2 separate regions of the Homo sapiens genome follow, and region 1 is linked to region 2. Evidence: fine-mapped expression QTL. A gene starts in region 2. The other region holds a variant in brackets. All regions are shown on one strand. Distances are from middle to middle. Region 1 overlaps BCKDHB (branched chain keto acid dehydrogenase E1 subunit beta). Region 2 holds the start of BCKDHB (branched chain keto acid dehydrogenase E1 subunit beta).

Region 1 (12,871 bases), 140 kb before region 2:
GAGCCTCTCTAAGGTACCACACCAGCCACTGGATACCTTAAACTTTCCCACATGCAAAGCTAACAGCAATTGTCCATCATCCACTCATTCTGCCCCAACTCTCCCTTCCACTTCAGCTCTACCTCCAGCAGTCCCAGCCCTGGTGAATGACAGCACCACTGATCCTGTAGTCAAGCCAGAAGCCTGGGCATTCTGGGCTCATACCATATCCCAGCAATACCACTGTATTTTGCACATAATTGTCACTTGATTCAAATGTTGAACACTGAGTGAATTAATCTTTTTTCAAACCAATTTATAAATGATAAAAATAAACCCTAAGCTCAAAAAATACTAGAGAAAAGCAAAGTAAAACAAAACCAAGCAACGCAGAATGTAGTTCAGTATAAAAAAGCAGTGTATCTGGAACTATATCCCATGTTCAGAAAACAGAAACAATCACAGATCCAAAAAGAACCAAAGAAGCCTTAAGACACAGATTAAACAGTGGAAAAGATGCTAAGACAACAGATGACCTTGGACACTGTGGTGCTGACTCTGAGAAAAATTTGCTTCAATTAAAAATCAAGCTTTATGAAGATGAATTTCCCAAAGCATTGAAAAGAGAGCAGGAAAACTAGATAAGGGAGAAAAAGAGTACAGTAAGAGAGTTAGTAAAAATTAATAACAACCACCTAACATTCAAATAGAGTTGAAGTTTGAAACAATCACATGTATTATTTTGTTCTTTCAAAAACTCTGAGGCAAGCAGGTCTTTTAATTACCAGGCAATAATAATTGGAATTCCCACTGGCAAAACACTGTAGATTTTTAATAGTAACTAAGCTTCAGCTATGGATCATTCTGAATGTTAAGTAGCAGAAAGAATCAAAACCACCCCAATGTTAAAGTGGTCCTCATCACAACATAGACTTCCACTAACGTGGCCATTAGCAGCAATTCACAATGGTAATTACCTAAATAAAGAGCTGCTATTTCTGGACTGAACAGGGGTCACCTCAAGAACCATTTCCCTTCACTGTAAGTCTCTAATAATGAATTTAGTTGGCTGCTGACAACCTTCCAGAAAGCATCCAAAAGTACAGACAATATGCTGCATTGTCATAGTGAATTGTTATGCCTGTTTTAGAAATAAGATTTTGGAAAGTTTAAATGAATCGTAAAGACATCCAAGTGAACAAGAGGAATCAGAATTTAAACTTTGATCAAAAGTTTCCCTTCTACATCTAATGTTAGCTCACCTGTAACATATCTTTGAAAAACTAATAATTCCGGTTATAAATATGTGTGGAAATCAGCCTGATTTGTTATGACAACCTTAAGGATGTAGCTGATTGAGTATTCTTCTTGTGTGAAATAACTCAGGTCTAGGTAATAAGATTTAACAGGATAATATTTTTGAAATATTATGTGATTTATTTTTATTCTTACTAATCTTGTTGCTTTACCCAGCAAAGCTGAAAGCTTTGGCTTTGAGAGACAGACAGATACAGCCAAGGACAAAGGCATTATTGTTCAGTTATAATTTTCCAAATAGCAATTTAAAAATTAGCTTTGCAGAAGCAATTGTTTTGCAACCCACATTCTCTAAGAGCTTGAGAGAGAAACGGTTTTGTTTTGATGGTCCAAAAGGACTTTGCTTGGACCATGCAGAACTGTAGAATTGAGAGCTTATATGAAAGTTACTCATAGATATGGCAAAAGGAGAATATTAAAGCAGTTTCCCTGGCTCAAAGAAAAGAAATATAAGTTTGATTGCCTTCTAGGATGAAATAAGGACCAAAGTGTCTAACTAGAGATTAAACATTGTCTGGGCCCTTGAAGGTGTGTCTGTATGTTGGGGGAGAGGGGTGGGGGAATGTGTGAGTTTGTCTATGTATGTGTGTATGTGTGTGTGCAAGTGTGTACAAGTGTGTGTCAGCATGGGGCTGGACAGAAGATGGGGTGGTAAGATGGTAAAACATTCAGAAAGACTAAGGGGGTGTCTCCACAAACATTAGGAGCTTCTGCCCAGCTTCTGAAGCCCTCTGGGAGAGCCATTTTGGATTCTGTAAGCCAGTGTTGGGTAGACAGCATACAGCTGCAATGGTGAAGAAGTCTGCCAGGTTAGAATGAGCTGAAAGCTTTACACTGCCCTGTCTTTCCCTGATTTCAGTAGGATGTCAGTGAGATAAAAAAACATTCTCATGTCTCCTCCCACCAAAGGAGGTCTGGAGGGCTTTTGTAGTAGCAATGGCAGGAAGGGGGCTAGTAAGCATGAAGAACTGCAGGGCCAGCCAATGAAACAGCAAGGAGTAACCATGGTTTCATTTTACCTTAAAACTTCAACCACAAGATGCCCCAATTGTTGTATAGCAATGCAGGATAACATGAAGACAAAGGTCAAAACCTAAGCAAGACAAGATACATAGGGGAGGCGAGGGACGACCAGGGGACCACAGACTGGATGGACACCTTCCTTCTCTCAATGCTTCCCATGCACTGAGAAACTCACATTTCTGCATATCCACAAGTGTATTTTCTCTTTATTGCTTAACAATTTACAATTTTCACAGGTTAGAGAATCATAAATTATTACAATATCAAGGTTATCCTAAAGTGTGATTCTTAACATATTGGTTTAAAATGTCTTTCTCTCATTCATCCATTTATTTATTTAGTGAGATAGGGTCTCACTCTGTCACACACATTGGAGTGCAGGGGAGTCATCTCAGATTACTGCAACCTCCCCCTTCCAGGCTCAAGTGATCCTCCCACAGCAGCCTCCCGAGTAGCTGGACCACAGGCACATACCACCATGTTTGGCTAATTTTTGTATTTTTTTGTAGTGATGGTGTTTCATCATATTGCCCAGGCTGGTCTCGCATTCCTAAGCTTAAGTGATCCACCTGCCTCGGCCTCCCAACGTGCTGGGATTGCAGACATGAACCACCGTGCCCGGCCCTCTCTTTTATTTCTAACTGGATAATACTTGCCTCTCTTCTGCTTCATTCAAATTGACAGAGAGTAGAAAAGAAGGGCCATGACATAAAAGTGCTGCTCCTTCGTGGTGTTCTAACTCAACCCAGAAGTCAATATTTTGTCTAACAGCACAGAGCACTACACTTTGGAATAGTAGTTTGCTATTCTGGTTATTCTAATTCCATTAGTCTCAACTAGATGCTGTGACTGAGAGTACACATGAAAATAGTATCAGAACTTAAAATGATCTCTATCGTGTTTTTACCAAGTATCTAAAAGGTGACCAGATGTAGTGTTAGGTCCAGCAAGGAAGGAAGCTCAAAAAGCTACAAATGAATGTGTTCCAGCCTCTCACTTTGTCTACTTTTTGTTTCCTGAGCTTTTGGGGGATTTTTTTTTTCCTATTGAAAGCCTTTTTTGAATTTTATTCCAGAAAACTATCCCCCTAAGGTCGTTTTTTCTTCAATTCCTGGGTTCCCATAGCAACCTTTTGATAAACATGTTATTGGTATTATCAGAAAATACTACTGAAATTGTTGGGTTTCTTATCTGTCTCTCCCACTAAGACAGTATAAGCACCTTTCAGTTTCCGGTCTCTAATTCAGTTGACTTTCTGTGTGTGCAAAAGTGGCAAACAGTGTTCTAAGTACTTTACATACATTAAAATTCTGTTTATCCTAAAAAAAAAATCACAGAAGATAAAGACTACTATTATATCTCTGTTTTATAGATGAGGAAACTGATAGAGAGGTAGAATAGTAGAACCAAGAACCACACTCAGGCCACCTGGCTCCAGAGTAGATGCTCAACAAAAGTTTGTTGAATTGAATTCAATCCAAGCTAGGAGAACTATGATTCAGAAATCCTAAGTTCCTGTCTTCCAGATACTGCCTTTGGTCAGCATATTTTAAACCAATATTCCATGAGAATCCAATTAAAGAAACAGTTATCTTTTGTTCAAATAATTTGTTTTGTTACAGTCATCTTTCTTCTGCTGCCGTACTCCTTTACTTTTTCCAAGCTATCATTACTTTATTGAGCCAAAAATCATTATAATATGACTTTTGTCAGCTTCCACAAGGCTACCATTTTGCTCGAAAAGAAACTAATTTCTTCCATGAGCTATTAGAAGACATTATCTGTTACTATTACAATAGATGCACACATACATAAAGTATAAGCCACATGAGCAAACTGCCTGTTATCCATTTTTCCCTCAGGGCAACAACAGTTCTGTTCTTTATTTAAATAACAACAAAACAAAAAAATTATGCTAATTACTTTAAGGGTAATTTTAACTGTGTTATTTTTTTCTTATAATTAAGTTGGAGCTCCTCACAATTTGATTTATGAGCAACCTCTTTTAGAATCTCTATGGAATATTACCTCAAAAGGAAACTTAAATTTCTAACATGTTTTTGAAACCATTCATTGCCTAGTTATTACTTCTACAACAACATACACTTCTAGTCAGGTTGTGCTGTGGTTTAAGACATCCACCTACATGCGCACGTGTGTACACACATACATGCACACACACACACACAGTCCCCAGACTGTGCCCTTCCATCTCCTGCTTCACCAGCCTTTCTTCACTTTCATCTGTCATCAAACACCTCAGTCTTTCCTACACATCAATACTTAACATGTTTCCCAATCAGTTTCCTAACATTAAAAACCCAGTGGCTTCTTCTATGATTTTATAGACTCAGGATTATAGATCAGCCCTCAAGAAATAGTGTATTTTGTCTTAGGTACTTTGAGAGCTTGTGGCTTCTTATTTTCAGTTTACTGAAATAAAAAGGTAAGTGAGCTGTTGATTCATCTTTAGATAAATTATTTATTGAAATAGACAAACATAAATATAGCCTTCACAATTCTAAGCTCTACACTTACACAGAAACACTTTTAAAGTGAGATTTCTTTAAATGTAAATACTTGGCCAGGCACAGTGGCTCATATCTATAATCCCAGCACTTTGGGAGGCTGAAGAAGGAAAATCACTTGAGCTCAGGAGTTCAAGACCAGTTTGGGCAACACCATGAGACACTATCCCTACAAAAAGGTAAACAAAAATTAGCTGGGCACAGAAGTGCACACCTGTGGTCCCAGTTACTCGGGAGGCTGAGGTGGGAAGACTGCTTGAGCTCTGGAGGTCAAGGCTTCAGTGCACTGAGATCACACCACTGCACTCCAGTCTGGATGACAGAGTGATACCCTCACTCAAAAAATATAGAGAGAGAGATATTTAAGGACTTTTCTCATTAATTCTTAGCTGTTGTCAAACAATACTTAATTTAATATAGTTTTATCCAGACATTAGTTTAAGATATTCTTTCTATCTACATTGAATCTTCTTATATCAGCTATATACTGCTTCAGCTTTCTATTACCTCATCAGGGAGCAAAGCATGTCAGGAACCATAGGGCTCCCCACTCCTTCCCTCTTCCCCCTGATTGGGACTCTCCTACCTTTGGGTTTATCTCCACTGATATTCCAGCCTTTGTGCTGGTGCTGAAGAATGAAACATAATAAGCCTTTGCCTGGGAATGAGCTGGCTCAGTAGCATTCTCTTGATATCCCTGTACTTCTAGTCTCAGTACCAGGTGGTACTCCCTTTTACTTTGTCTCTCTGTACCTTGTTTTATCCTATTGTCCAGTCTTTCAGTGACTAGATTCTGGCCATACTGTCCAGTTAGTCTGTGGCTGAGATATGACTATAGAGTCCTGATGCTCTATGCCTGAGTCGTTTCCCGATTAACCCCAATTGAGAGATAGAATCCTTTGCCCGATCGAGAGATGTCAACCTTCTCTGCCTGCCAAACCAGCCTACTGATGGCAATCTGAACACTCAAACTACAGATTTGCCTTTAACCCAAACAGATTTGGGTCTCTGGAAACCTACCCAATTTTTATACTTTATCTGTTCTCATCTATTTAGCCTGATGCCCCAGTACCAGTGGACTATTATACCCCAGATGTAGCAAAGATGTTAGTCAATAGTCCCCACCCTGGTTAACAGCCAGCACCACACTCCTCCCCATGATGCAAAGATTAATTAAGAATACAGGAAGGCTTGAATAAATAAAGACAATCCAATATTCATGGAAAGGAATAATCAATATTGCCATGATGTCACATTCCTCAAATTATCTATAAATTAAATGCAATTCCCATAAAAATGTGAACTGTGTGTGTGTGTGTGTACATGTGTATGTGTATGTGTGTGTGTCACTTAACAATTAATCTTCAAATTCCTAAAGAAAATAAAAGGACTAAAAATATCACCTCTCCTCCCTGCTCCCACCCCACCAAAAATAACTGAAGAAGAGCAAGTTCGGGAGATTTGCCCTATCAGATATTCAAATTTATTATAAAGCTATATTGTTAAGATAGAGAGGTATTGTAAGGCTCTAAAAAGACACAAAGAAACATAAAATGGACAGCCCATGAACAAATCCAC[G/A]TGTACATGAACAGTGGATACTGTTAAAAGATGCAGAGTGTAGGGTCAAAAATAAAACAGAGCTCTTACCTTAAATCACCCTAAATATATCAAGTATGATTAAAGGTGACTAGAGACCTAAGTTTGAAAGGTAAAACTTTAAAACTATTCAAAATATTTTAAAATATCTTCATGATCTTGTGATAAGGAAGGATTTAAGTGAGACGGAGAAAGTAGAATCCATAAATGAAAAGATGAATAAATTTGACCACAGAAAAATTTAAAACTTCCGTGCATCAAAAGACAACATTAAAAGAGTGAAAACACAAGCCACAGACTGAGAAAGGATACTTGCAATGTATATATAACTCATAAAGGTTTCTTAGCCAAATAATAAAAAGAAATCCACAAATCAGTAAGAAAAATTTTCCCCCAATAGAAAAGTGGAAGCAAATTTACAGACAAGATGTTCAACCTCATTAGCAATTACAGAAAGGCAAATTTAAACCCAGTAGGATACCATTTCACACAATCAGATTGATCACAACAGGACATCTCACATACTGCTGGTGAGCGTGTAAATGGTACAACTACTGTAAAATCATTTGACAATACCTACTAAAGTTCAAAATGCTGATAATGTAGGAATGAGAAGTTTCATTCCCAGGAATTTACCAGAAATATTGCCTATATACATAAAGAAATATGTATAAAAAATTGCTGTTCTGCAATATTTGCTGCTCTGCACCCTCCGCTGGTGATGCCCAGGCAAACAGGGTCTGGAGTGGACCTCCAGCAAACTCCAACAGACCTGCAGCTGAGGGTCCTGACTGTTAGAAGGAAAACCAACAAGCACAAAGGAACAGCAGCAACATCAACAAAAAGGACAACTCATACCAAAACTCCATCTGTAGGTCACCATCATCAAAGACGAAAGGTAGATAAAACCACAAAGATGGGGAGAAACCAGAGCAGAAGAGCTGAAAATTCTAAAAATCAGAGTGCCTCTTCTCCTTCAAAGGATCGCAGCTCCTCACCAGCAACGGAACAAAGCTGGATGGAGAATGACTTTGACGAGTTGACAGAAGTAGGCTTCAGAAGATCAGTAATAACAAACTTCTCTGAGCTAAAGGAGGATGTTCGAATCCATCGCAAGGAAGCTAAAACCTTGAAAAAAGATTAGACAAATGGCTAACTAAAATAAACAGCATAGAGAAGACCTTAAATGACCTGATGGAGATGAAAACCATGACATGAGAACAACGTGACACATGCACAAGCTTCAGTGGCCGATTCGATCAAGTGGAAGAAGGGTATCAGTGATTGAAGATCAGATGAATGAAGTGAAGTGAGAAGAGAAGTTTAGAGAAAAAAGAGTAAAAAGAAACGAAAAAAGCCTCTAAGAAATATGGGACTATGTGAAAAGACCAAATCTATGTCTGATTGGTGTACCTGAAAGTGACGGGGAGAAAGGAACCAAGCTGGAAAACACTCTTCAGGATATTATCCAGGAGAACTTCCCCAACCTAGCAAGACAGGCCAATATCATACTAAATGGGCAAAAACTGGAAGCATTCCCTTTAAAAACTGGCACAAGACAGGGATGCCCTCTCTCACCACTCCTATTCAACACAGGGTTGGAAGTTCTGGCCAGGGCAATCAGGCAAGAGAAAGAAATAAAGGGTATTCAATTAGGAAATGAGGAAGTCAAATTGTCCCTGTTTGCAGATGACATGATTGTATATTTAGAAAACCCCATCGTCTCAGCCCAAAATCTCCTTAAGCTGATAAGCAACTTCAGTAAAGTCCGATACAAAAATCAATGTGCAAAAATCACAAGCATTCCTATACACCAATAACAGACAAACAGAGAGCCAAATCATGAGTGAACTCCCATTCACAATTGCTTCAAAGAGAATAAAATACCTAGGAATCCAACTTACAAGGCATGTGAGTTGTATTCTCCTTGAAGAGGAGAACTCTTCAAGGAGAACTACAAACCACTGCTCAACAAAATAAAAGAATACACAAACAAATGGAAGAACATTCCATGCTCATGGATAGGAGGAATCAATATCGTGAAAATGGCCATACTGCCCAAGGTAATTTATAGATTCAATGCCATCCCCATCAAGCTGACAATGACTTTCTTCATGATTCAATGCCATCCCCATCAAGCTGACAATGACTTTCTTCACAGCATTGGAAAAAATCTACTTTAAACTTCATATGGAACCAAAAAAGAGCCCACATTCCCAAGACAATTCTAAGCAAAAAGAACAAAGCTGGAGGCATCATGCTACCTGACTTCAAACTATACTACAAGGCTACAGCAACCAAAACAGCATGGTACTGGTACCAAAACAGAGATATAGACCAATGGAACAGAACAGAGCCCTCAGAAGTAACACCACACATCTACAACCATCTGATCTTTGACAAACCTGACATAAACAAGAAATGGGGAAAGGATTCCCTATTTAATAAATGGTGCTGGGAAAACTGGCTAGCCATACGTAGAAAGCTGAAACTGGATCCCTTCCTTACATCTTACACAAAAATTAATTCAAGAGGAATTAAAGACTTAAATGTTAGACCTAAAACCATAAAAACCCTAGAAGAAAACCTAGGCAATACTATTCAGGACGTAGGCATGGGCAAGGACTTCATGACTAAAACACCAAAAGCAATGGTAACAAAAGCCAAAATTGTCAAATGGGATCTAATTAAACTAAAGAGCTTCTGCACAGCAAAGGAGACTACCATCAGAGTGAATAGGCAACCTACAGAATGGGAGAAAAATTTTGCAATCTACTCATCTGACAAAGGGCTAATATCCAGAATCTACAAAGAACTTAAAAAAATTTACAAGAAAAAATCAAACAACCCCATCAAAAAGTGGGCGAAGGATATGAACAGACACTTCTCAAAAGAAGACATTTATGCAGTCAACAGACACATGAAAAAAATGCTCATCATCACTGGCCATCAGAGAAATGCAAATCAAAACCACATTGAGATATCATCTCACACCAGTTAGAATGGTGATCATTAAAAAGTCAGGAAACAACAGGTGCTTGAGAGGATGTGGAGAAATAGGAACACTTTTACACTGTTGGTGGGAGTGTAAACTAGTTCAACCATTGTAGAAGACAGTGTGGTGATTTCTCAAAGATCTAGAACTAGAAATACCATCTGACCTAGCGATCTCATTACTGGGTATATATCCAAAGGATTATAAATCATTCTACTATAAAGACACATGCACACGTATGTTCATTGCAGCATTATTCACAATAGCAAAGACTTGGAACCAACCCAAATGTCTATCAATGATAGAATGGACTAAGAAAATGTGGCACATATACACTATGGAATACTATGCAGCCATAAAAAAGGATGAGTTCATGTCCTTTGCAGGGCCATGGATGAAGCTGGAAACCATCATTCTGAGCAAACTATCACAAGGACAGCAAACTAAACACCACATGTTCTCACTCATAGGTGGGAATTGAACAATGAGAATACTTGGACACAGGGTGGGGAACATCACACACTGGGGCCTGTCATGGGATGGGAGGAGGGGGGAGGGATAGCATTAGGAGATACACCTAATGTAAATGACGAGTTAATGGGTGCAGCACACCAGCATGGTACATGTATACATATGTAACAAACTTGCATGTTGTGCACATGTACCGTAGAACTTAAAGTATAATAAAAAATAAAAAATATATAAATAAATAAAAATAAAATAAAAAGAGTGAAAAAACAAAATCTTCCACCACTTGGCTGCGCTGGAGAGTCTCTGAGCCTACTCTGGTTTCCGAGGCTGCCAGATTCACGAGTTGTTATTTGCTCAACTGAACTCTATTAACTTAATGTGGCTAAGATTTTTCTTTTGACTGTTGTTTACTGAATAATTTAAAGATAAGGCTGGGCAGGATGGCTCACGCCTGTAATCCCAGCACTTTGGGAGGCCAAGGCCAGCAGATGACCTGAGGTCAGGAGTTCAAGACAAGCCTAGCCAACATGGCAAAACCCAGTCTATACTAAAAAATACAAAAACTAGCCGGGTGTGGTGGCATGCGCCTGTAGCCCCAGCTACTCAGGAGGCTGAGGCAGGAGAACTGCTTGAACCCAGGAGGCGGAGGTTGCTATAAGCCAAGATCACGCCACTGAACTCCAGCCTGGGTGACAGAGCGAGACTCTCAAAAAATAAAATAAAAATTTAAAAAAGATTAAAATCTCCTCAATACTCTTTGGAAGGAAGGAAGCGAAGGAGGGAGGAAGGAATTTTGCTTTATAAATTTATGCCACCCAAAACAGAACTTTAAAAAACCTATTTAAGTTTTATAACACATTTCAACTAGACATGAAATAGTTCCTACACAACATCCTTGCTCTCTTTCCTTTCCCTAATTCTTCTATTTCATTCTTCCTTTTTTTTATAGCAGTCTGCTCCAGCTGATAGGGATGGCCTGAACCTTTTCTACTTATGTAAATAACAAAAGTATCATATTCTGAGAACCTTGTCATGTTAATTACCTTGATTTTCAATTTCTGATCTGAACTAGAAAGTTGAAAGGTTGTGCAGTAGTTAGGCATATAGGTTTTGGAGTCAGAAAGCCTCGGGTTCAAGCTCTGGCCATGCCAACTTACTGGTTAATGTGAACATGGGCACTTCTGAACCTCTCATCTAGAAGACAATAATAGTTCTCACTCCAGAAGTTTACTGTGAAGAGTAAAAAGGTAATAAATGATAAAGTGCTTAACAAGGTATCTGACACATAATAAACACTAAGTATGATGAGTGAATTTCCATGAGCTTATTATGAATAATTCTGTAACAGGCATTATTTTTTCGCAACCACTGGTATTAATGATCATAAGTTTCACTAGAAATCACCTACATAGTAAATTAATAAAACAGAATCCCTTCTAAGTTATTAGAATCTTTAAGTTGCAGGTTTAGAAGGTAACTTAAATGTGATCACCTAGTTCAGTTACTCAATCAGCCGAATGCTTGATTATCCTCAGTGACATCCCTGTTTTCAGCCTCTATCTAAGCATCCTGATAGAAAAATGCTCATTATTTCCTAAGGCCACCTTCCATGCAAAAATTTCCTCCTTAAATGGTGTAAAATCCTATTGCTCTAAAGCATCTACCAAAGACTTTAATTTTGTCCACCAAAACTATAAAGAACAAAGCCAAACTCTCTCAATTTCTACCTTCAAATATCTGAAAAACACTTGCAGTTCCCTTATAAAATTCTCTCAGAATGAAATGTTTACAATGTCTTCTACAATAGCATGATTTATATTTCCTTATTCTTTTGTTGGTCCTTTTCCAAACCCATTCCACTGCATCTAAATGTCTCTCAAAGTATATCTACATGAAAATTTTTTTAAATTATTTTACTTGACGTTGAAAGTTGACCTTAGAAAACTATACATTCCTCTGCAAAATTCTGTATTTTTCCAAGAAGTGATAATAACATTCACTATAAAATATAAGATAAAGTCTCTTTCAATCTCTCTGTACATATTGACTTACATACATACACATAACAGATAAATGAGGCTGCATAGAATATTGGTTAAGAGCACAGACTCTGGAATTGGACTGCCTGGGTTCAAATCCCAGCTCAACCCTTGTTAGTATGTGTCTTGGGGCCAGTTACTCAACCTCTCAATGACTCAGTATTTTCAATGTAACTACCTCTGCTAATGTAAGGAATAAATGAGTAAATATATGTTAAACATTTGAAATAGCTGTACAGTGAGGGCTTTAGCTTTTTACCCATGTAAACAATAGACAGCCTCAGAAACCTAAACTTACATTTATTTTCTTAGATAAAATTTTCACTTTTCCAGCTAAACTATAGGTTCAGTTAAATTTAAGTAAATGAATATTTACATTATGAACAACAGAGCCAAACAGTGGACTTTCATTTTACAGTACAAATTAGTTCAACATTGACTGATCACCTAAAAGTCTATTACCTGTTAAATACAAAATTGTATAAAACAGCCCTGCCTTCAAACAGTCCTTGGTTAAGCTGGGAATATGCATGTAATCAAATAACCATAATATATGTAATGCATTCATTATATGGATAAAGTACTTTGGGAACACAGCAACACAAAGTTAAAGAGAAGAGGCAATAATTCACAGTCTGATATTTTATTAAAGAATAACAGCATACCAAAATGGCTAAAGAACAATTGTTTTTAATAGAATTCTGAATAAACTTGAGATTGAAAAATTAATTTTACATTTTACAACCAAACTTAAAAGGCTGCAAAAGCAGCCTTTCCACATGGAGCACAGGTTAAGTTGCCTGGTTGACCAGCATTGCCTGATCTTACTGGCAATTAGTCATTAATATCTGAGTTTCAAAGCTAATGAGAGCCATTCCCATCTGAATGATATGACTGACCAGTTGTTCCCAGTGCCGGTGCTC
Region 2 (12,871 bases):
AGTCCCCTGCCAAAAATGCGAGAGCATCAGTTACAACCCCTGGCACTGGAAGATTGACTGGCCCTGCTCCCACCAAGGGGTTCAATAAGGCAAAACTCTAGCAGTGCAAAAGAGAAATTAGATGAAGACTGAAGCGACCCAGGGTCTTCCTCACTGCCCCTGTTCAGGAACATCGTAATTACTACTGAGGAGCCCCCAGGTAACTCTGGACGTCATGGGCACCCAAATTCAGTTTCTTTTCAATACAAATTCAGTTTCTTTCCTTACTACTTATGTAGGAAAACTTTCCTCCCAGTCCACGACCATTATGGGAATGGAAGGAAAGCCACAAGTAAGATCCTTTATTCCTCCTTTGATTTGTCAAATTGAGAAACAAATCTTCCAACAGTAATTTCTAGTAGTATCAAGCTGCCCAGGCCCCCTGTTAAAAAGAGATATTATGGTTAAAATAGGGGCACTACTACAATTTAAGCATCATCTGGTGAAATTGCTAATAGTCAAAAATACAGACACTGTCCCAGACCACATTAATAAACAGGTTAACACACTGGCATGGTATACTGGAAAACCAAGGAAGGCTAAAACAGCAGTGCCAGCCAAAATACAGCTTAAAGACCCCTAGCTATTTATTTTCCCAATCAAAAACAATACCCAATTAAGCTGGAAGCAAGGAAAGGCCAAGCATCCACAGCTAAGGTATTACTTACCCCTGGGCTCTTAAGACCCACTGGTAGGTCCACCCATTGGTGGCAGATCCATATACCCTCCTGGCTCAGGTGCCAAGGGATGCTAAATGGTTCTCAGTCCTAGACCTAGAAGATGCTTCATTTTCCATTCCTCTGGCCCCAGAATCCCAATACCTTTTTGCCTTTGAATGGGAAAATCCTAATGCCAGAGAAAAACAATAATACACTTGGACAGTTCTCCCTCAGGGTTTTCAGGATAGCCCCCATTGCTTTGCCTGGGCCTTAGAGAGGAATCTGAGGGGTCTGCAATTAATTAAGAAATGGGAGTATACTCCAGTATATGGATGACCTCCTTGTGTATAGCCAAATCCTGGATGAAAAAACTACAAAAAGTTTGAATTTCCTGGCAGATAGGGGATACCAAGTGTCCAAAACGAAGGTTCAGATTACCCTCCGACAGGTCCATGATCACATCCTTAGCAGCTAGCAGAGAGTATGGCATCCAGGAGAAAATAAAAATGCAGAGAATGACTGAATAAACAAACTCACATCCATACAATGCCCAAGAATCAGGGGCATGGAGAAGCCAGGATGAACTGTTCTCAGAGAACAACACAGTGTAATAAAGGGAGCAAACATGCCAGCATAAAGCAGCATAAGTGTCACCAACTCAGAGTCTAATCTGACTACCTCCTTTTAAGCAGTACCTTTTATATGTCAAAACAACCAAAATAAAAGAGTGAAAAGTATTTGCAGGACATGTGAAAAGCAGAAAGTTAGTATGTTCTTCAATATTTTTTAACAGACAAAATCTTAGTATATAAGTAGTGTGGGAGGCTTTGGAGTAAGACACATCAGGATTCAAACTCTGGCTCTGCTACTTACCAGACTTGGGTAAGTACTAACATTTCTGAGCCTCAATTTTCTCATCTTTAAAATGAGCATAATATTGTCTAGTTCACAAGGTTACTGTGAGGATTATAAACTGATGTCTAACACAACACCTGGAAAAGAGCAGCTATGCAATAATCGTAGATAGTATTGATAGGAAAAATACTGAGTATACTTTTAAAAATATGTAAATACATCTAATATTCAATTCTTAAGTAAAAATAAATCAATTTAACAAAAACATGGGAAAATATTCCTCAACAGAAATGAAACAAAAATTAAAACAAAGTACAGTTAGCACAAAATATCCAAGAGTGTACATGAACACACCTAATTTTAGCATTAATATCCAATACTCACACTATTATACATATTATGGGGTATAAATGGGTATAAATTTGAACTATGCACTTAAAATCCATTAAAGTATTCAGGACTCTATCCTAAAGAAATAATCTCAGATACATAAAACCCATATGCATGAAATGCTTGTATCTGCATTATTTACAAAATTGCAAAATTTTAACAACAAAAACATAATGGTAATTATTTAAAGGTTCCACTTATTGACTGAATGCTTGATTCTCAGTTGTCAAACAGTGTTAAGTATATTATAGACATTGTTTTATGTAGCCCTCACAACAACCTTCTGAAGTAGGTATTATTATTAACCCCTTACATATAAAGAAACTGAGGCTTACAGAGGATAAGTAGTAACTCCAAAGTTATAGACAGCCAAGGCAAGATCAAACTTAGGACAATCTGATTCCGGGGTCAAGAATTTAACTTGTAAAAGACTTGTAGCATCTCTACTCCATGGAACAGTTCTTCTAAATTCTCAAGAAGGTTATAAAAACTCCAGTGAATTGTAGGATAATTCTTCCGACTAAATAAGTTGTATTTGTATTAAAACTAAAAGTATGGAAAATACGAAACTAAAAGGAAATACCTGTAAGGATACACCCAAAATGTTAGCAATATTTACTGCAGTGGGTGGTGATTTTTGTTTTTTGGTTTTTTGGGGTTTTTTTGAGACAGAGTCTTGCTCTGTCACCAGGCTGGAGTGCAGTGGCACGATATCAGCTCACTGCAACCTCTGCCTCCCAGGTTCAAGCGATTCTCCTCCCTCAGCCTCCCGAGTAGCTGGGACTACAGGCATGCGCTGCCACGCCCAGCTAATTTTTGTATTTTTGGTAGAGACCGGGTTTCACCATGTTGGCCAGGATGGTCTCGATCTCTTGACCTGGTGATCCGCCTGCCTCCGCCTCCCAAAGTGCTGGGATTACAGACGTGAGCCACTGCGCCCGGCAGATTTTTTTTTTTTTTTTTTACTTTTTATCCATTATCCAAATTATCTGTTAATATGTTTGTATTATTTTTAAAATAAGAACAAGTTTATATATATCATGATATATATCATGATAACATGATATCATTTTACTTAGATTTTAGTAAGTTTACAACTATGGAAAGTTGGACTATTTCTCAAGTATTAGACCAAAATTTCTTTGCTTTGAAGACAGAATTTGCTTTGAAGACAGAATTGAGGGCTCATCTTGGTGGTGGAAAAAAAAAAAAAAACACCTACTATTAACCTTTATGGTACCTACTGTTTCACAATACTGGGACGCCCTCCAAGTAAATTATATCTACACGCATCTTAGTACATTGTTTAGAATGGAAGCTCTGGAATCTGATCAATTAGATTCCAAAGCTGGAGCTTTGGAGCTACCACTAACTTACCTGTGTAATCTTGGTCAAACTGTCTCAAGACTCCATTAACCTAACTGCAAAATGGGAATAAAAACTTTACTAACCTTTTAAGGTTGTCCTAACCCTTAAATGAGATGATGAAACATACACACAGCACCTGACCCTGGTAAGCACTCAATAACTGTTCATTCTTATCCACAAGACACACTTCCAAAAATGTCAGCTCTAGCATGCACATGAGAAGTTATTAGACAAGGAAGCAATACATGTTTCCCTACAGTTTCCTGATATTCTGAAGAGAGACACTGGATCTGATATTCTGATGAGAGACATTACATGAAACTTGCAGAAATGGTAAAAATCATGCAACAGTCATACTATGAGGAGTTTGCTACATGCCCTTCCTATGGCTTCCTCCTCTCATCCCCTTCACCTCCTTGGCTAAGTGGCAGCATAGCCCAGGACAAGCTCAGTACTAAGCTCAAGTAGAAAGTCTGAATTCTTTCACATCTCTAGGAAGGACCTGTTCTGTGACCTTGGGAAAATCAGTTCAATTACTCAGAATTCTGTAGGTAAGAAGAAACCAAGGGACATATATACATATATGCATATATATATGCATATATATGTGTGCATATATATATATGCATATATATATATATGCGCACATATATATGCATATATATGCGCGTATATATATCCACACATATATATATGTGTGTGGATATATACACACACACACACACACACACATACACACAATTTCTGTATGTAAGAAGAAACCAAGGGACTGAGTAACTGAATTGATTTTATATACATATATATATTTTATATATAATATATATAATATACATTTAAAATATATATATATAAACATATATATATATCTTTTAAATGCCTCTACCTAAGCTAGTGGCCCAGTCCTGGCCAGGCTGGAACAACACCTAAGGCCTGGGTTGAGAAAGCAAGGACGGAGGACAGAGAAAAGGGAGGCGTTCCCTGGGCACCACCCCTCCACCCTCAGGCTCTTCCAGGTGGCAGTATGCCCTCTCACCCATCTCAAAGTTGCGGGGGAGGGGGGACTGCGTCTCGAGGGCTGAACAGTCACAAAAATAGAGCAAGAAGTGAACCACAGTTAGACCCTGAGGCAAGGAGGTTCCAGAGAGTCAGGAAGTTAATAAGCTGGGATGCAAGGATTGCAGCCTGCCGGCCCCTGCCCCTCGCGGGCGCCTGCGAGCCTGGGAGTCCGGGCTGCAGCGGGACCGAGTGGGCAGTCCCAGGGCTCACCGTACTCCCGGGGCTCCGGATCTGGCTGGAAAGTAAAATGAGCCACCTGCCGCCTCTGGGCCGCATCCTCGACAGTCGCGGCGGGGTGCAAAAAGCCCCGCGCCAGCCCCGCGCCAGGAAGCCGACGCCAGTGCCCCTCAGCCCCTGCCGCCCTGAGCCTGAGTAGCCAGCCGGCAGCCGCCGCTACAACCGCCATCCCCGCTCACCACCGGGATTCTCAGGCTATGCAGCCGCACGCCGCCTGCGGGGAGGGCGGAGCACCCGAGGAGGCTTCCACATTGGTCGGGCCAGAGGGGCGGTCCCATGAAACAGACCAATCGGAACTGGAAATTTAGGGGCGGGGAAGGCGACGTGACGAGCTGGTCGGCTTCTGCTCCTTGTGCGCATGCGGAAGAGGGGAAGTGTGGGCTAGAGGTGGCGCCAATGAAATAGTTTCTGGGGTGGAGCCTCCCCGAGGTCGGCCGTGCGGTCCTCGGGTGAGGACCCGAGTTTGCAAAGTTCCACACAGTGCCTGGAGGCGATCTTTTCCGGTGTCATTTACAGTGCCATTTCCAATGGTTTAACATCCATACTTTTTTTTAAATGTAACCCTTTTTTATCCTGTCCTGTCTCTATTATTGTGTGAGAGGTGAAGAGAGCTACTGATTGGCATTGGTTATTGTTTTGACTTTCGAAAAACTGCTGTAGTCACTGCTCAAAGCTTTCACTCCTTATTCACACCCTCCTTAAAATGCTTAATAAGCATATATAGATTTTTATTGATTTCGTTTTTCCACATTTAAATGAGAGATGAAAGAGGTAAACTTAGATTTCATCCTGCAAATCCACTGAATAGGAATTCAGATACATTTTGCCCAGAAGTAGCAAAAATTACCTGATTGGCTTAGTCTAAGTAGCTTAGAAACCTGGAGAATTTGAGTCACTAATTTTCATTTATAGTAATCAACTATGTAAATTTGTTTTAATCTAAGTGTTTACCAGGATACATTCTCTGTCCATGAATTTACTAAAAAAAAAAAAAAGCACATAAAACATGAAATATCATAAAATCAAATATGACAAGAGACAACAGAGACAGTGTGTCCATCAGATGAAAATGGGAGGGTGGGGAAGGATGGTCCCAAAACAGAATTTGAAGAAGAAAGTGGGAGTGGAGGAAAAGAACATTCCTCTTCCATTATGCCTTGCCTCTTAACCCATCTTTGGTTTTGCACAGGGGCAAGGGAGGAGAGGGTAGAAATGGGGCAAAAGGAGAGGCAGAGAAATGTGTTTTCTGACTGAGATTAAGAAACAGCAATTGAAAACTGCCAAAGGGAGAACCAGAATTATGTCTCCATTTTTCCTACCCCCACACTAAGTCCAAAAATTCAACATTGGGGAAATTTTTTATCTTGGCTTTTGTTAGTGTTCATTTCTGCTGTTTTAATAGTGTGGGGTAGAGTGTTTTGCATGTGCATGAAGGGTATTTTTGTTTTAATGAAGGAAGGGGTAACAAAATGAAATTACATTTACATAGTCAAATTTGGGTTTAAACTAAGGAGAGTAAAGAACAAGGATAAAAATGAATAGAGCTTTTTTTCTATTTGTTGATAGTTTAGGGAGCTGGGGGTACTGAGATTATTTAGGTCGGGGAGAAAAAGAGAAAAATAATAACTGATGAGAATTTTATTGAACCTCTGCTACGTACAACCCAATGACAAGCCACCATTGAGACAAATAAGATCAAGGCATAGTTTTACTTCTAAAATGTCCAAGGTGGTAGAGAAAAGAGACAGATTAGGCAACTACAATCCAATGTGATAGGAGTCCTAGAATAGTGCAAACAAAGTGAAACACAAAAAGAGCAATAAACTCTTATTTGAAAGTCAAGTGTTTCCAGATATAACTCTGAGCTAGACCTAAAAGATGACTAGAAGTTACCAGGCAGACTAGGGAGAAAATGGCATTCCAAACTAAGAAGAAACCTGTATAAAGGCTGATAGGCATGAAGAGCACAGTGCATTCCAGGAAGAGAAAATAGCTTGGTGCTTCTAGATTCAGGGTGTAGGGAATGATACAGGGTTAACAGAAAAAGTAGGAAAAACAGATTAAAGGGAGATTTTGAAGGTCTAAGAGGTTTGAACTTTCAACTACATGCAGCCAGGAAAAACAAACAGAGCACCTGCCAGATTCACCTGTTTTGCAAACTGATTTTTTAAATTTTCCCCATCTCTACCACACCATTTGCCTGGTAACCATGAAAATGTCTATGTTATTACAGTGGGACTTTCCTCCATTCCCCTTGCCCTGGCCACATTTACTCAATTTGGGAAACTGTCCTTTTCTGGGAATTTTGGAAGTGTAGTTTAGAAAGAAAGATCAGATTATCTTTAAATGCCACTAGGAACTGCAAAAAATGGGAGTTTTCAGTAATTTCGTGAACCAGAAAAGGTGAAGAGTGTGATTATATTTGAGTTCCTGATTCCATTTATTCCCAAGGCCTAACTGCTTTCTGGTCCTGGGGTTCTATGAGACATCACCGTATCCTTAAAATGTATTCCCCTCTTTGTTTAAGCTATTTCCAATTGCAGAACCCATGACTATGGAGTTGGAATACAAAGCAAAGTTGCTCTTCACCCTTCAGAATGACTCTTGCATCACTTGCTCTCACTGAGCTTCACTACCTGTGCAACTTGTACCTGTTTAGTCTCAGCTTGCTTTTAGACGACCATTTTATATAGCAAGATGATAGTTTTGCAGTATTACATCCTGGCATCTGCCTCCTTTCAAACTCAAACAGAGGTATCATGGAGGCAGAAAAAAAAGAAATCAAATTATTGCTTTTGAATTTTAAAATAGATTTTAAACTTGATAGCAGAGACAATAATTTGAGAGAAAAGTTTGAATTCTACAGACTGGTTTCTGAGTATTAAACCTCAAAAACCTGAATGAGTTAGGAAACAAAGCTTAGGGCTAAAAGAAAAGATTGTAAATCACATACCAGTATAAGAGATGGTTTGTCTCACCTTCCATGGAGGTACAGCTATAGATTAGAAAGACCTGTAGGTATCCTCCTTTGTAGATGAACCTAGAAAAGTATCACTAAATCCTCAGGCTACCCAGCATGTCATGGCATTTGAAACAGCAGGATGCTTCTCCCATGTGGCCAAGAGAGATGCAGCTATGGCAACAAGATCCAGGGAACTTGAGGAGACCCAGCAATCAGAATGATAAGGACTTGTGTCTAGAATATACTGATTGAAAGTCTTAAACGCAACAATAGAAAAGAAAAATTACCCAATTAGAAAATGGGCAAAGAATTCTCATTCATTGATTGTGGCAATGCAAAATGGTATAGCCACTTTGCAACACAGTTTAGTTTTTTATAAAACTAACATATTCTCACCATGAAATCCAGCAGTAGTGCTGCTTGGTATTTGCCCAAATAAGCTAAAAATGTATGTCCACATTAAAACCTGTGCAGAATATTTACAGCAGCTTTATTCATAATTGCCCAAACTTGGAAGCAACCAAATAAACTTAATGGAATATTATTCAGCACTAAAAAGAAATATTAAGCTGGGTGTGGTGGCTCATGCCTGTAATCCCAGCACTTTGGGAGGCCGAGGCGGGCGGATCACCTGAGGTCAGGAATTTGAGACTAGCCTGGTCAACATGGTGAAACCCCGTCTCTACTAAAAATACAAAAATTAGCTGGGCGTGGTGGTGTGCACCTGTAGTCCCAGCTATTCAGGAGGCTGAGGCAGGAGAATCGCTTGAACCCAGAAGGCAGAGGTTGCAGTGGGCCCAGATCACGCAACTGTGCTCCAGCCTGGGCAACAGAGTGAGACTCTCAAAAAAAAGAAAAAAAAGAAAAAAAAATATTTAACCATCAGAAGACATGGAAGAAGTTTAAATTTATATGACTAAGTGAAAGAAGCCAATCTAAAAAGGCTACATACTATATGAATCCATCTATATGACATTCTGGAAAAGGCAAAATTATGGAGAGAATAAAAGAGATGAGGGGTTGCAAGGGTTGGGAGCAGGAAGGGATAAATGGAAAATCACAGAGGATTCTTAGGGTAGGAAAAATATTCTGTATGATATTATAATGGTGGACATATAAATATGTCATTATACATTCGTCCAAATGCATAGAACGTACACCACCAAGAGTGAACCCTAATGTAAACTATGGGCTTTGGTTGACAACTGTGTGTTAATGTAGGTTCCTTGATGGTGACAAATGTGCCACTGCAGTGCAAATGTTGATGATTAAGGAAGCTCTGTATTTGGGGAAAGCATATGGACATTCTCTGTACCCTCCTCTCAAATTTTTTGTGAACCTAACACTGCTCTAAAAAACATAGCCTATTTAAAGAAATGGACAAAGGATTTGAATGACATTTCTCCAAAGAAGATATGCAAGTGGCCAATGAACATAAGAAAAGATTCTCAACATCAATAGTCATTAAAGAAATACAAATCAAAACCACAATGAGATACCACTTCATATCCACTAGGATGATTAAAATAAAAAGAAATCTATAACATGTGTTGGTGAGGCTGTATAGCAACTGGAACCATTGTGCATCACTGGTGGGACTGTAAAATGATGCAGCTGCTATGGAAAACAGTTCCGCAAAATGTTAAACACAGTTATCTTTTTAATTTTGTTCTTCTATTTCTCTTCCTTTTTTGTTTTTTTAAACATAATTATCTTATGACCCAGCAATTCCACTCCTAAGTATATAACAAAGAAAAATGAAAAGGTGTATTCACCAAAGCTAGTACACAAATATTCGTAGCTGCACTATTCATAATAGCAAAAAAGTGGAAACAATCCAAATACCCATGAAATGATGAATGGTTAAACAAAACTGATATATCTGTAAATAGAATATTATCTGTCAATAAAGAGTAATTAAGTAGTGTTACATGGATGAACTTTGAAAACATTACGCTAAGTGAAAGAAGCCAGTTTAAAATACTATATATTATACAATTACATTTATAAAAAGTCCAGAATAGACAAATCAACAGAGACAGGAGGTAGGGAATGACTGCTAATGGATATAAAGTTTGTTTATTTATTTATTTATTTATTTATTTATTTATTTATTTTGAGACGGAGTCTCGCTCTGTCGCCCAGGCTGGAGTGCAGTGGCGGGATCTCGGCTCACTGCAAGCTCCGCCTCCCGGGTTCACGCCATTCTCCTGCCTCAGCCTCCCAAGTAGCTGGGACTACAGGCGCCCGCCACTACGCCCGGCTAATTTTTTGTATTTTTAGTAGAGACGGGGTTTCACCGTTTTAGCCGGGATGGTCTCGATCTCCTGACCTCGTGATCCGCCCGCCTCCGCCTCCCAAAGTGCTGGGATTACAGGCGTGAGCCACCGCGCCCGGCCTAAAGTTTATTTTTTGAGTGATGAAAATGTTCTAAAATTAAGTAATGTTGATGGTTGCACAACTTTGCTCTATGCTAAAAACCAGTGAATTGTACATTAAAAGGATGAATTTCATGATATGTAAATTATATATCAGTAGCACTATTATTTAAAAATTAAATTACAGAAAAATAAAGTTATATTTGCCCATCTAAATATGTTGATGAAGAGATTCATTCCCCCTACAGCATGTTTAACATCCAGTGTATTAGTTCACAGACTCTGTTCATATGAAATCGGTTTCAACTAAGGACTCGGGATAATGGAAAAGCTCCCTGATTTTCCTTACTTCACTGAATTACTAAGTGGAATGATCCTGTTGGAATCAAAAGAAAGTCCAGAATATACTCAAAGCCAATGTATTTGTTTCCTAGGGATGCTGTCACAAAGCAGCACAAACTGGTTGCAGGAACGTATTGTCTGCGATTCTGATCAAGTCCAAGATCAAGGTGTCAGTGGGACCATGCGCCCTCTGAAACCTGTAGGAAAATTCTTCTTTTCCCTTTTGTTGGTTCTCTGGAATTCTTTGTCATCCCTTGGCTTGCAGTTGCATAAATCCAGTATGTGCGTTTGTTACCACATGCCGTCTCCATATCTTTGCACAGCTATCGTTTTATAAGGACACCAGTCATATTGGATTAGAAGCCCACACTGCTCCAATCTAACCTCATCTTAACTTAATCAATTACATCTGCCATGACCCTATTTCCAAATAAGCTTAAATTCTGAGGGCCAGGGGTTAGGTACTGGGTTTGGGGGTAGGGGAGTGTCAAGCTCAACATATCTTTCAGGGGACAGGGGCATAACAGTCAGAGACTTGGTTGCAGGAACAGAAGCTAACTGGATGAATGCTTTTGATAAACTATGGATGCTTTTGATAAACTATTAGGAGGATGTTTACATGGTTAAAGAGTTTTTATAAAGTGTTTTGTGGATTTCTTCAAATATGACCTAAAGTCATTTGGAGAAGGGTTAAAAATCTAGAGATATTTGGTCTAGATAAGATTTTAAAAGTGATGTATTAACTCTCCCTCAAAGTTTGATGGGCTCCCTTGTAGAGGGGTTAAATTTACTATTTAGCTCCGGAGGGAAGAATAAGAAACAGGAAGAAGCAAATTCTAGTGTAATATAAAGAGCTTCTTATTAAGTAGACTGTCATGGGAAGTAATGAATTCTCTATTACTGAAATAGTCAAGCACGAAATGGATGAACACTATTGAGGGAGCCTCTTGGGAGGATTTATGCTTCATTTACAGGTGGTTTAGCGTACTTCTAATTTTAAGAATTCTGATTCTACTATTCACTAGTGTGTACTGAGAGCCTTGCATGTGCCAGAGACAGTGTTTCAATCAACATTATTTTAAGCCAACCCCTGGTCTAAGCCAGCTGTCCCATCCAGCATGTGAGTTATTCCTTCTTCCCCTTCCTCGGCATCTTGGCAACTTCTCTCTGGCTTCTTATCTCCTGCAGGGGCTTGAGATGCACTGTGATCAGTCTTCCAAGCACTTTGAACCATGCTATGTAGACAGAAGCCGTGTAAGCCAGTCACTGAAGAAAGGGCATCAAAAAGTGACATTATTGGAAGTTTGGGCTCAGCCCAGGGGAAGGATTTAGATACAATCAATGGCTCAGAAAACGGCTACAAATGTTAATATCTGCCTGTATGTATAACAGTGTTTTAGAGAGAGCTACTCATCTGTAAAAATACATACCAGCCCGGCAGTAGTGATTTTTTAAAACTTCCCCAGGTAATTTATGAGTACTGCTAGGTTTCTCAAAGCTTAATTAAAACTATGGCTTACATAATTGTGAATATTGGGACAAAAGAAATTTGAGACCCATATCTTACCTTACCTCCATCACAAACTTTATTGGGAACACCAGGTGGTGACCAGTGTGGAAAAAGAGAGAAGAGCAAAGGGGCAGACAGGCAGTGGTCACCACCAAAGACCCTTGACAATTTGATTTCCTCACCATGTAAAGCCACTCCTAAACACAGGTAAAATAGAAGTCAGCCTATGTCACATGATGCACACATTTAACCTACCCAAATTCACATGAGACTTTAAGTAGAGCAATTGATTCTTTCCTTTTTTTTTTCAAACAGTGTAAGCCCTGGACCAGTGGTGCTCCGCCTTGACTTCACGTTAGGATCACCTAGGGAGCTTTCAAACATGCTAATATCCAGACCCCATGTGGAAAACAGTGTTGATACAAATGTTTCTATTCCCTCTGCTTTTAGGAACTCAGGTAGATTGAACTTCCCTAGCCACCTGAAATCAGGCATAGCAATGTGTCTTGATTTGCCAGTCAATGAATTTGACCACAAGTACAGACGGGCATTCTTGGGTGGAAGAATTTAGCACCTGGTAGCCATTTCTCTAGTTCTCTTCCTGTGCCTCATCAGGTAGTAACATTTCAGAAACTAGAGCATCCATAAGCTGTTACTGGAATGACACTACATGGAGAATCACCTGTCCTTCTTCCATACTTGTTTCACCTGGAGCATGACTGAGAAACAATTTAACAGTGTATATTTTTATCTTTTAAAAATAGAACATGGCTTCTAATCACAAACCTACTTTACATGGTGTTCAGCTATTCTAACATATCCTAACTCTTCAGGAAACATTCTCAGTAATATAGTTACTAAAAGTGCATTTTTCTACAACATGATGCATAAATGTAGCTACACATTATTATTGTGGATTTAAACTGTTGTCAACTGTAATTTTAGCTAGTCACAAGTTTTATCTTGCACTTAGGTTTTGGAATCTAAACACTTAAAACTGATGCAACTCTCCTCTACTGAAGAAACACCAAAATCTTTTCTATGCACATTTTAATCTCTTAAAACAACTTGATGA

The links. PIP is the estimated chance that this variant, and not a neighbour inherited with it, causes the effect.
Region 1: its variant is fine-mapped to the expression of BCKDHB in esophagus mucosa (GTEx, PIP 0.95).

What each region holds. Positions count from the first base shown.
Region 1 is chr6:80,235,866-80,248,736 of GRCh38, reverse strand. All of the region lies in intron 8 of BCKDHB (branched chain keto acid dehydrogenase E1 subunit beta), which reads right to left. Among named protein-coding and RNA genes, the nearest start is that of BCKDHB, 140 kb to the right of the region's middle. The variant G/A (reference allele first, on the strand shown) is at 6,426.
Region 2 is chr6:80,098,596-80,111,466 of GRCh38, reverse strand. It overlaps BCKDHB (branched chain keto acid dehydrogenase E1 subunit beta), which reads right to left and starts at 4,796. Exons shown (of 10, transcript NM_183050.4): 1 at 4,578-4,796. The coding sequence starts at 4,773. RefSeq lists enhancers at 4,454-4,533, 4,500-5,000 and silencers at 4,584-4,683, 4,714-4,913.